2 separate regions of the Homo sapiens genome follow, and region 2 is linked to region 1. Evidence: fine-mapped expression QTL. A gene starts in region 1. The other region holds a variant in brackets. All regions are shown on one strand. Distances are between the middles of the regions.

Region 1 (5,376 bases):
AGTTTTTGTTTTGTACTATCACTGTGGTTCCTATCTTCTCCAGAGCTTTTTCTCTTCTGGCTTTGTACTTTTTATTCAAGCATGTATTTACATTACAGACATCTTATCAAATAATTACTGCTTAAACTAGAATTTGCTGAGCACCTATTATGTCCTAGATACTGTCCAGTGCTTTCTTACAATAACCTTATGTATTAAGTATTGTTACTCTACCTGTAAAGGTAAGGGAAACTATACCTGAGAAATCATCACTCACATAAAAAAAAAAGAGAGAGATTCTATTCATGTCCTTATTCTTTCAGCAACCCCCAATAGCCTAAGTAGTCTCCCAGGCATCAGGACTAACCTGGACTTCACCAGGACCAAATATCGTCTGCCTCAACCTGGCTTCATAGACCAGGACTGGAGCCTGAAGAGAAAGAACAATTCTAAGCAGAAGTTCAAGGAGCTGTTTAAAGAGGGTCTTTATGAGATTGTAACACAGGAAGACACAAGCAATGTTGCTTCAGTGCCCGGGGGATAAATTACTACACAGAACCAGGGCAAGAACTGAAGAGAGTAGGGTGTCATTTTCCCACTTGACAGGTTTGCCCTGTGGCATTCACTGGAAAATAATGTGGACCAGAAATCAATGTTTCTCAGTGGCCGGGGTGAGGGGCAATCTTGGAAAACCAGAGTACGAAGTAGAAGGACATGGGAAGGACAGGCAAGACAACCCCAGGATTCTCAGCAATTACTGCAGTGGGGAAGGAACGGAGGGGCCTCAAGTCCTTTACACAGGGCAAAATGATGGGGCAGTGAGAGTTGATTATGGTTATCTGTGGCTTCATTTGTATTGATGAGAAATGTGGTTACACAAAAATAAATAAGACAAATTGTCCTCAAAGAAGTGAAATTTTATGGAGTCAGACATGCAAACAGATCATTAAAAGGTGACCAGCACTATTATAATAGTCCTTACAGAGGAGGTAACAACCAAGTAAGGCTCTGAAGGATGAACAAGAGTTTGCCAAATGAAAAAGAGATGGACCAATATTCTAGCTAGGAGGAACCTCACATGCAGAGGCTTAGAGTTATGGAAAATGGAGAGATAAGTTAGGAGCAGATTGTAAAGAGGCACACCAGGAGATGTGGAATTTACTTTGTAGGCAATAGAGAACCAGCCCACCAGCCCAGACTTTCAAGTAGGGGGATCATGGAATCTTTTTTTTTGCGGGGGGGAAGGTATTTTAGAGGAAAATTTGGACAATTAGTTGAGAGGTGCAAGGTACCACCTGAATGGCAGTTGGGTAAGGACTAGAGTCAGAAGAACCACTGATGGGACTGTGGAAACAACTTGTGCAATGACCCAGCAGCCAGATATCATGCTGGTTCAGGAACCGAGGGAGGCTCTGTGAGGCCAGAGCACATTTGGCTGGAGAAGGAGGAGAGGATGGCAGTAGAAGGAGAAGGAAAAGAAGGCTGCTCACTTGCATGCAGATGCTGTGAGCTGACGGGGCAAGTTCAAATTGAAGTTAGAACAGACCACTGGGGTAGTCAAGACCTTGAAGGATGAACCTGTTTCTTTTTCATTCCTGAATCTTGCCCCAGCACCTTGGAGGCTGGGGGTGGAGGAGGTGGTGAGGTGGGGTGGGGTGGTGAGGAGCTCAGAAAATGTTTTCCTGAATTAGAGAACTGAAGGAATCAAGGCTCCGCTGAGCTCACTAAGCGCTGGAGCCTGCTGTAAGTGGTCAAGTCGGGTGATACCCAGCAGACAAGTAATTTGTGTGCAGACCGGAGTAGATTACGGAGGACCCAAGGGTCAGGCTAAGGATCCTGAACACCATCCACGATAGAGTGGAGACGTGCGCTTCGGAGCCTGAACTATGCAGCAAGCAGTGTGTTTACTCAAATACTATACAGTTGGAAAATCTTAATTCTCGATTTACATTGCCAAAAAAAAAAAAAAAAAATCTCCATAATACTCCCCCATTTGTAAATAAGCAAATCCGAACTAACCCTATTCCTTGGGACCAGAAGACCCAGTTTCTACCGCGGATAGATAGCATCCGCCTTATGCTAAAAGCTCTTTTTTCTGCGGTGGTGGGGGGCGGCGGGGAGTGTTTGGAAAGAACGGTTGCAAAAACAAAACAAAACCCCCAAAACCACTCACCCAATCTCAACCACCCCAACTGATGAATTTCGAAGAAAGTGCTTTTTAAAAAAGAAAAAACTAGAAGACCACAGACCTCCCACAGAAAGCTAAACCCATGAGAGTGGCATTCAAAAACTACCCATTTTCTGGAACATCTTTTGTAGCTAAATCCCAGCCATCCTAGCCCCGGAACACTCCCGCCCTCCGTCCCCGCACCCCCACCCCCGCCGCCACACGCGCTCGCAGGCTGACGGAGGTTGGCGGTGGGGCGGCCGCTCAGGTGAGGGGCCACCCAGTCCCTCGAGGCGCCGGCGGCTGGAGCCCATTCGCTGCCGTCGCAGCAGCAGGGCAAGAGGGGGTTGGCCAGGAGGGGAGGAGGCGGAGGACGCCCGCAGGGAGTGCGGGGGAGGGGGACGGGAGGACGCTAAGGAGAGCCGGGAGGGGCAAAAGCACGGCGCGGGGAGGGGGAGCGGAGAGGGCGGGAGCGGCGGGGGCGCGCGCCGGCGCGGGGCCAGCCTCGCTTCGCCAGGGTCGCTGGCGGACGCGCGCCGCAGTCCGAGCCTCAGACGCGCGGGCGCGGGGGACGGCGCAGGGGCCGCCTGGCTGGAGCAGCCAGAGGGGATAGCTTCGTCGAGAACGGAGGACACCGGCGGTCCAGGGTCCTGGGCAGTCGCGCCAGAGCTGAGCGGAGGGCGCGGCGCGAGAACGTAAGTAGCTCCTTGCGCGTCTGGCGGTGACACTGGGTCCTGCTCGGGGGTGACGGCTGGAGCGGAGGAGGACGCGCGAGGCTGCTGCGTTGTCACTTGGACACCGCCGCGGGGTTCAGCCGAGCGCTCACCGGGCTGGCAGCGCTGCAGGAGGGGCAAAGCAGATCTCCAACTCCCTTCTCCCCTGCAGGCCCCCGACACTCCCGCGGGCGCCGAGAGGGAGCAGGGGGACCTGCGCTTGGGTGAAGGCACAGCTGAAATCCAGCAGCGCCGGCACCCACCACCCCCTCCAGCCTGTGGCCAACTTCTGCTCCGCGCCCGCACCCCACGCTTTCCGGGAAGCCCTGCCCAGAGCTCTTGCTCGTGGGCAGTTGGGCATGGAGAGCCTGCGGGCCCGGCACGGCGGCTTCCCGGGCTTGGACACGGAGGCGCGGGGCGTCACGCCACAGTGCCGGCGGGGCGAGGAGCGCGGGGGCCGGGCCGGGAGCGCACGGGCGTGTGCCTGTTCGGGCCCCTGCGGACACGTCTGGGCGTGGGCTTTGTTCGGAAGTGCGTACACCTGTGCTGACCACGGAGTTCGGGGGCGAGGCCGACTTCGCTTCTCCAGTCGCTGCCTGGAGAGGGCTCGGGGAATCGAGGCGGAACGAGAGAGACACGGAGGACAGAGGGGTGGGGCGCTTGCGGGGGCTTTGTCGGCCTTACAGGTGCGGGTCCCGGGAGTCCCTGCGCCCCGCCCTGCCTCCGAGGGCTGGGACTTGTCGGGGCCGGCGCACCGGGCTGGGGGCTGCCTGGAAAGATTGCTTTCCCAGCCCAGGCTCTTAGCGGTGGGATCTGGCATCCGCTCCGCCCGGGATGCTGTGTTGAGCCAGGAGTGATTACCCGCCCTGGAGCATCCATCTCGCAGCGAGCGCCATCTGCGCCGAGCGCCGCCCCCGGCCCCCTCCACGCCGCGCGGGTGGGCGCTGCCGCATCCTGGTCCCAGGCGGTTGGCCAGCTCAGCTACTCCCGGCCCGCATCTGCTAGAGTGCGGAGGGGGACGGGGTGTCGCAGTAGGGTGAGCAAGGGAGTCGTCATTTCTCCCAAAGCGGTGTCCTCAGGGCCGCAAGCGCTGCTGGAGGGCTCCCCGGGCCCCGGGGCTGGCGAACAGGCCGCTTCCTTCCCCGGATCGCCTCCCCTCCCGCCCGCGCCCGCGGCCACATCTTCGTCCCCCGTACGCTGGCGGGTGGCCCCTGCGCCGCGGGCACCGAGGGAGGGCGCCGAGCGGTGGCGTTTCTTTCGCACCCCGCCTCTCTCCTTCCCTTTTCTTCGCATCAGGGGCTCCAGCCCTTGGCTACCACCGGCGCAGAACTGTCCTGAGAAGAAAGCTTTCTTTTCCTTTCCGAGTCCCAGATGGTTAACGCTCAGAAGTGCGGGTCTAAGAGACTGGGCTCTTCCTCGCCCCAGGCTTTTGCAGGAGGAGATGGAGCCAAGTGTAATGAGGCAGGAAGCATTGGTTGTGCACCAGGAGCTCCCCCTGGGGTGGTCCTGGAAAGGAACACAGTAACCTCTGAATACAAACCTCGGAGGCTGGGCTGCTTTATGGGACTGCATTGTGCTAACCATGCCCTGCTGTTAAAATATTGTAATAATGGCAGTACTTGCTGAAGTACTGAAATGGAGTTAGGCAACTGATACTTGCTGCTTTAATGGTAACGATAGCCAACCGGTTTTGAGAGCTTTAGATGTGCTGGGCGCTGCGCATGTTACATGTATCATCTCATTTAATTCTCACAGCAACCCCATTTTAAAAATTAGGAAATGAAGGCTTAGAGAAACCAAGTAACTTTCCCAAGGCCACACAGCTAGGAAGTAGGGGAGTGGGATTGTTTTTGTCCTTGTGCTTTACAATCCAAGACTGAGACTGTGGCCTTTTGGAGGCTTATCAGTTTAGGGGAAACCTAAACCACTGAGTGTTCAAAACCAGGGAGATACATTACAAGCCCATTTAATTCGGAGCTCTGCAGAACTCACAGTAGCAGGCAATATTGTGATTCAGAGAACTGTATTGTGGAATAGCCTTTTATTCCCATGTAACTCCTTTACATATTCTTTTATTCCTGTTAGCTTTTAAGTACGTGGCTGTTAACCCACAATCCAACCCATTACAGTCACTGAACAACATGTTCTTAGTAACCAGGGCCTCTGTGATTACATAGATGTTCCTGGCACATCATAAAGTTTCATAAAACTTTTTTTTCTTTAAAGAAAAGGTCCCCAGCCCTGAATGTCCTTTGTACACGGTTTTGACTGCAAATGAGTTACTCCTCAAATTGGATGTTGAGTTTGAATAGGACCCTAGCATCCAATCTTAGGAAATCATTCTATTTCCTAAATATATAGAAACATGTGGGGGCATTTATGAAGATGCTCCATGTTAACTAGTAAAAAAGGAAAATTTGAACCAAAGTGGAATCAGCTATTTCTGGAATAGCTTTTAGAATTATAATTAACTGATCAATTGGAAAAATTGATTTATTTTGCATTCATAATCCTACT
Region 2 (5,376 bases), 160 kb after region 1:
ACCACAGAGGTACTTTGGTGGTTGTCACAAATGCTGTTCTCCACTCATGAAGATGGACTGTTTAGCACTGTTTTCACATCTGCGGACTCAAAAGTCAAATAACTTAGACAATGTGAGTCTTGGCTTTGCCAATAACAAGAAACAATGAATGCTATGAGGTGAATGTTTGTGTCCCCCCAAAATTCATATGTTGAAGCCTAAATCTCTGATGTGATGGCATTAGGATGTGGTGTCTTTGAAAGTTGATTAAGTCATGAGGTTAAGCCCTATTGGATGGGATTAGTGCCTTTAGGAAGAGGCCCCGGGGAGCTGTCTTGCCCTATTCTACTGTGGGTGGACATAGCAAGAAATTATCTGTGAACCAAGAAGTAGGTCTTCATCAGACATGGAATCTGCCAGCACCTTGGCCTTTGATTTCCCAGCCTCCAGAATTGTGACAAGTAAATTTCTGTTATGTTACCCTGTTTATGGTACTTTGTTATAACAGCCTGAATAGACTAAGAGAATGGAGAAGTAACTTAGCTGCTGTAGACCCCACTTTACTCATCTATAGAACATTTGATTTTAGAGAGGTGTAAAAAAGTTAACATATGAAAAGTGCCTAGTACAGAGCGAGCCCTCTGTAAAGAGTAGTTGTCATTTTAAAATTAAATAAAACTTAATCCCAAATGACACAGAATTCTTCCATTTTAGGGGAAAAATACAAAATCAACAGATTTAATGAGGGCTGCAAAATACTTGACAATCTCTTCATCATTTAATCACTTTTTCACCCATTCTTAACCCCTGTTGTTATTAGTAGTTCTGTACCAAATCATATATGTCATCACTGTGCCCCTTTTTGCTATAGACAAAACGTTTTTCATGTGTGGTGATGCAAATGTGGACTTTAGGGATACTAATGTAATAATGAGCCAGAAGTTAATGAACAGGAAACTGAACAAGAATGGGGCAGACAACTTGGCACCAGAGATGGCTGCGGGGCAGGAAGTATAAACTAAGCATGTCCAAAAAAGGGGAAGTGATTCGGAAGACCGTAAGGGTGAGCTAGACAAGGGGCTGCTTCTGGATCCACTGAGAACAGACTAGACTGCATGCCAAAGGCAAAACATAAATGCAAGTCCCTCTCCTCACAGCACACAAATAGAGTTTGTGATGAAGTGCCCATTTTCCTTCCCATTGCACAAGTAGTCTGTGTACAATTTACCTAAGCCCTTGGATATGTCTATTTTGTTTATTCTTGGTTCAAATGCATTCGTTCTATCATCTAGAAAATTACACATTCCTTCAAGGCAGGGACAGTGTCATTTGCTTTATATCCCTTTTAATATCCTTGACTTCCATCTGGGTGCAAAGCAACATTCAGCAGGAAAATGGAAGCCACTTTAGGAATTTTGAACAAGGAAATATACTGGAAAAGCTGGAACTGCAACAGGGAGAAAGAGGGGTGTTGGAGGAACATAAAGGAAGAAGAGGTGATCCCCAGATTCGAAGCAGTTAGCCCTTCTGGGCAGGAGCCCATGAGCTTGTTCCTGAAAGTCCAAGTGGGTTGGTGACACTTGAGTTTGACTGTGAGTTCACTCAAGAGCTGCTGTCTCAAAAAAGGAAAAAAAAAAAAAAAAAAAAAAAAAAACCAGTAAAGAAAGTGCTGGCTTTTCCTGGGCTGCTGGAGCCCAAAATCACATCAACCCTACTGCTCCTACAGCAATTGCCATCAACTGCCTCATTTTAAGATTCAGAACCAAGAATCTTTTGTCTTTATCCTGCTTTCTTATTGCTCACCAGTACCTCCAATTAGCAGAACCCAAGGGAAAGACAACTAGTAAGAGTATGAGAAATTTAGGGTGCAAACTCCTGGCTCCAGTAGTATAAGGTATAGAGGAACAGGTGTGGGCTAAAAGACAATAGGTGAATTAATCAGCACATGTGTGATAGTGGAAAGAGCCCTGAGTTTAAAATTAGAAGACCTGAAATCAAGCCGGTATCTAACTCACAGTAATAATGTGATCTTATACAAGTTACGTAAGCTCTCTGAGCCTAAATCTCTCATTTGTAAAAAGAGAAGAATAATAATAATATCTTGCAGAGTTTTGGTGAAGACTAAATGATATAATACATATGAAAACCTTTTAGAAATGATAAAAATGTCTGTGAATTTTAGTTACTTTACACAGTCCTGTTGGCAGTTATCAAATTTACTGCTTAGGAGACAATCATAAGGGTTTTAAAATAATCTACAAAAGATTTCTGCCAGTATCACAGTGTACTGCCTGCACTTAGACTTCCTTTATGACGTAGGAAAACATGACTAAATTAGGGGAGACGTGAGATCAGCGTTGCTTGTCAATTTAGCAGATTTAAAAATGTTTTTTTGCAATTCTCTTCTGATGGGTCATATCCAAAGATAAGCAGCTGAGCCCTCTTAGCAGCAGGAAGGAAGGGCAGCTAGCCTTGGGTTACACAAATGAACTTATTAAGGCGATTTATAAAGCCATCTAGTTAATCAGAAAGGAGGGGAGTGAAAAGAGCCTTTCTTAGCCAAGCCGTGATCGCCCGCTGGACAATTAGAAGCACAGTTTTCAT[G/T]ATACTGTTGTAGTCCTCAGTTGGGGTCAGGCCTATGAGCTAGGATACAGCTGGTGGGTGGATGCAGTAAGGCTGTTAATTAATCACAAGGGGGTGGAAACCAAGGATGAGGCATTCACACCGTTTGATTTTCCATGGCCCCTGTTCCACTGCATTGACCCCCGTTTTCTGGGTTGACCTCTGTTAGATTTCTATGAATTGTTGCATGTTAGGTCTTCATTTACAAGTTACCAGTGGAGTAACTTGTAAATGGATTTTAGCAAACCATTGATTTGGGCCTTCATCAGATAAAGATTGGGTTTAATGTCTTTTAAATATTTTACAGTAAAATGCTAGCTCAACCAGTGTAGGAGATTTGCTGGATTTAGCTATTCATTTGTGCTTTTAACACTCAGCTGTTTTACGCCAGTTAAAATAACAACAGCTAATTTTTTCCTAATGCTTTCTCTGTGTCAGCCACCATTCTAAGCACTTTCCACTGACTCACTTAAACTTCGTAATAACCCTATGAGATAGGAGCCGTGATCCCCATTTTTACAGATGAGGAAATTGAGGCATACAGACCTTAAGTAACTTGCATAAGGTCAGTTAGTAAGTGAGGAGCTGGGCTTTGAACCAAGGTCAGACTGGTTCCAGTGTGTATTCTTGACCACTAGGAAGCATTGCCTCTCAAAAATTGAAACTGCTGTCTCTACTGGTTTGATGATTTTTTACTTAACTCTGTGTGACATATTTAACAACACAAACTTTTGTGGATAAAACATACTCCTGAGTTAGTAAGCAAGTCTCTAAAACTTCAATTGCATCCATGTTTTCAGGTTATCCTTTCTGACTTTGATATTGTTTCAGTATTCTAACACTGGAAATTAAAATATCTAAACCGTTTTTTCACAAGTAAAGAAATGTGCTACATAAAAGGACCAGAATAAGCATCTAGTGCCAACAGAAACTTGGACATATTATTTTACCGATTAGGAAACAGTCCCAAAGGGACCAGAGCTACTTAGTAGCCATGCAAGGTCTAGACAGCATCTGGCCCTGGATGTATTTCTTACACCCAGAGCCCTGAAGCCACATAGCACTTTTAAATTAGTTGGTACCATTTTAAAAAACAGTTGATTTCATATAAAAGTTTGAATTTCTGGCTAAAAGAAAAATGAAGTGATCTGCAAAACTGGGTGTATATTTCCCTGACCACTATCAGCTAAAGCTGAGTAGCAGCACCCTGCACTGTTTAAGCGGGGCCCCAGTGCCCTTTCCTCCGCTGCACAGCTGTATTCTTTAGCTTTAACTGCTTGGCCCCCTTAGGCATTTGAGTTTGAGACCACTAAACTAATTGGAAACAAAGACTTTCTGATTTCTGTCAGGTTGTCTTTGTGTAACACCACAGTGTTCTTTCAGAAAATTACGGCCATTTAGATTTCAGATCCTTTTTTTAAATGTTTTAGTTTAAGATTATAGTCAGGTTGCAACTCCTCTTATGGAGTAATAAAATTGTGTCTCTTCCTCTATACTTTCTTTTCTCTTCTCTCTCTGTCGCTCTGTCTCTCTTCCTCTCCTGTTCTCTGTAACTTAGAGAATTTGTGGTGATATATTAGTTTCAGGCACGGTCAAAAGAAACATTGATCACTGTCTTCATTTAGATGCATTAAGTATATACATACATAACAAATATACTTAAAAACCAGTCAGTGATAACTATCGTTAGCCAGTCCTGACTCATGCTTACCTGTCAAGAAAGACACATTTGAGAAAGTACAAACTCTTTAAAATCAACTTGTCTTTTTCTATGTTGTTATGCCAGTCATTACACTGTATTAATCTCTGGTTTTCTAATTATATAGCATCAGGCATATGACCTCTAAGCATTTGCTTGTTCGCTGGCTATTTTTAACTAAAAAATAAATTGCATAATGAAACTAATTCTATTTCCCATTGAGATAGTGCATTTTGAATTACTCAGAAGGGAGTCCAATTAAGTAGTATTTATCCAAAGTAAATGCAGGAGATAATAAAATATTTCCATGGCATGTTTAATTCAGAACACTCATGCTATGTAAATTAATTTGGTGTTGGATTGAGGTTATATGGAGGAAGGAGTTGCCCAGAAATGCAGCCCTTTTCTTTTGATCTTCTATATTTTATCTGTCAACGACTGAGTGACTAGATTCTGGACTCGCCGGTTTTCGCATTGGAAATGTGACTAATCCCAAGTGGTTTTGTTCATTTTCTCTGAAAGATTTCTCTCTGAAAGTGCCCAGATGTGAGCACTCTTAACTCCAGCTTTGTAATGCTGTTTATCTGGCAGCAGAAACCCTATTTGCAATAGTTAACTATCTTTTTTACATTTGCCATGGTCCAGCAGTGCTGCAGAGCTTTGAGGCTACAGTAGCGAGTTGATGACAATCAGCAGATTCTAAAGCCTTTTCAGAACCCTGAAAGAATAGATAATGATAGTACATAATGCTGAAATGACAAAAGACATAATGGATAGTCAAATGTTGATGCAATTTAGCTTCTAAAAAACGATTACAGTTCATTTTCTTTGATTATCTTTTTCAAGTTTTAACTTTAATTCTTTATTGTTTAAGTTCTGTAAAATGGCATTCAGAAAAACATTACCACATGAAATCTGTCGGAAATGTTTAGATAGTTGTAATCACAAAGAGTAGAAATGCTTGCTTTGTACTGTACTGTTGACCCAGCTCTGTCCTTCTCTGAGAGTTGCTGATTCAACTTTTTAAGGATCTAAATGATTCCTTTTTAAATGTTTGAGGAAAATGGTTTTTAGCT

Which allele goes with the higher level. Positions count from the first base shown, and alleles are read on the strand shown. Sizes are in standard deviations (SD) of each study's normalised expression.
For the expression in neural progenitor cells of the gene that starts at base 2,648 in region 1, G is the low allele of the variant in region 2 and T is the other (large effect, 0.83 SD a copy in Aygun 2021).

What was found. PIP is the estimated chance that this variant, and not a neighbour inherited with it, causes the effect.
Region 2: its variant is fine-mapped to the expression of NRCAM in neural progenitor cells (Aygun 2021, PIP 0.95).

Annotation. Positions count from the first base shown.
Region 1 is chr7:108,453,708-108,459,083 of GRCh38, reverse strand. NRCAM (neuronal cell adhesion molecule) reads left to right here and starts at 2,648. Exons shown (of 33, transcript NM_001037132.4): 1 at 2,648-2,841.
Region 2 is chr7:108,290,451-108,295,826 of GRCh38, reverse strand. The region is part of intron 3 of NRCAM (neuronal cell adhesion molecule); the gene reads left to right. Among named protein-coding and RNA genes, the nearest start is that of LAMB4, 160 kb to the right of the region's middle. The variant G/T (reference allele first, on the strand shown) is at 2,584.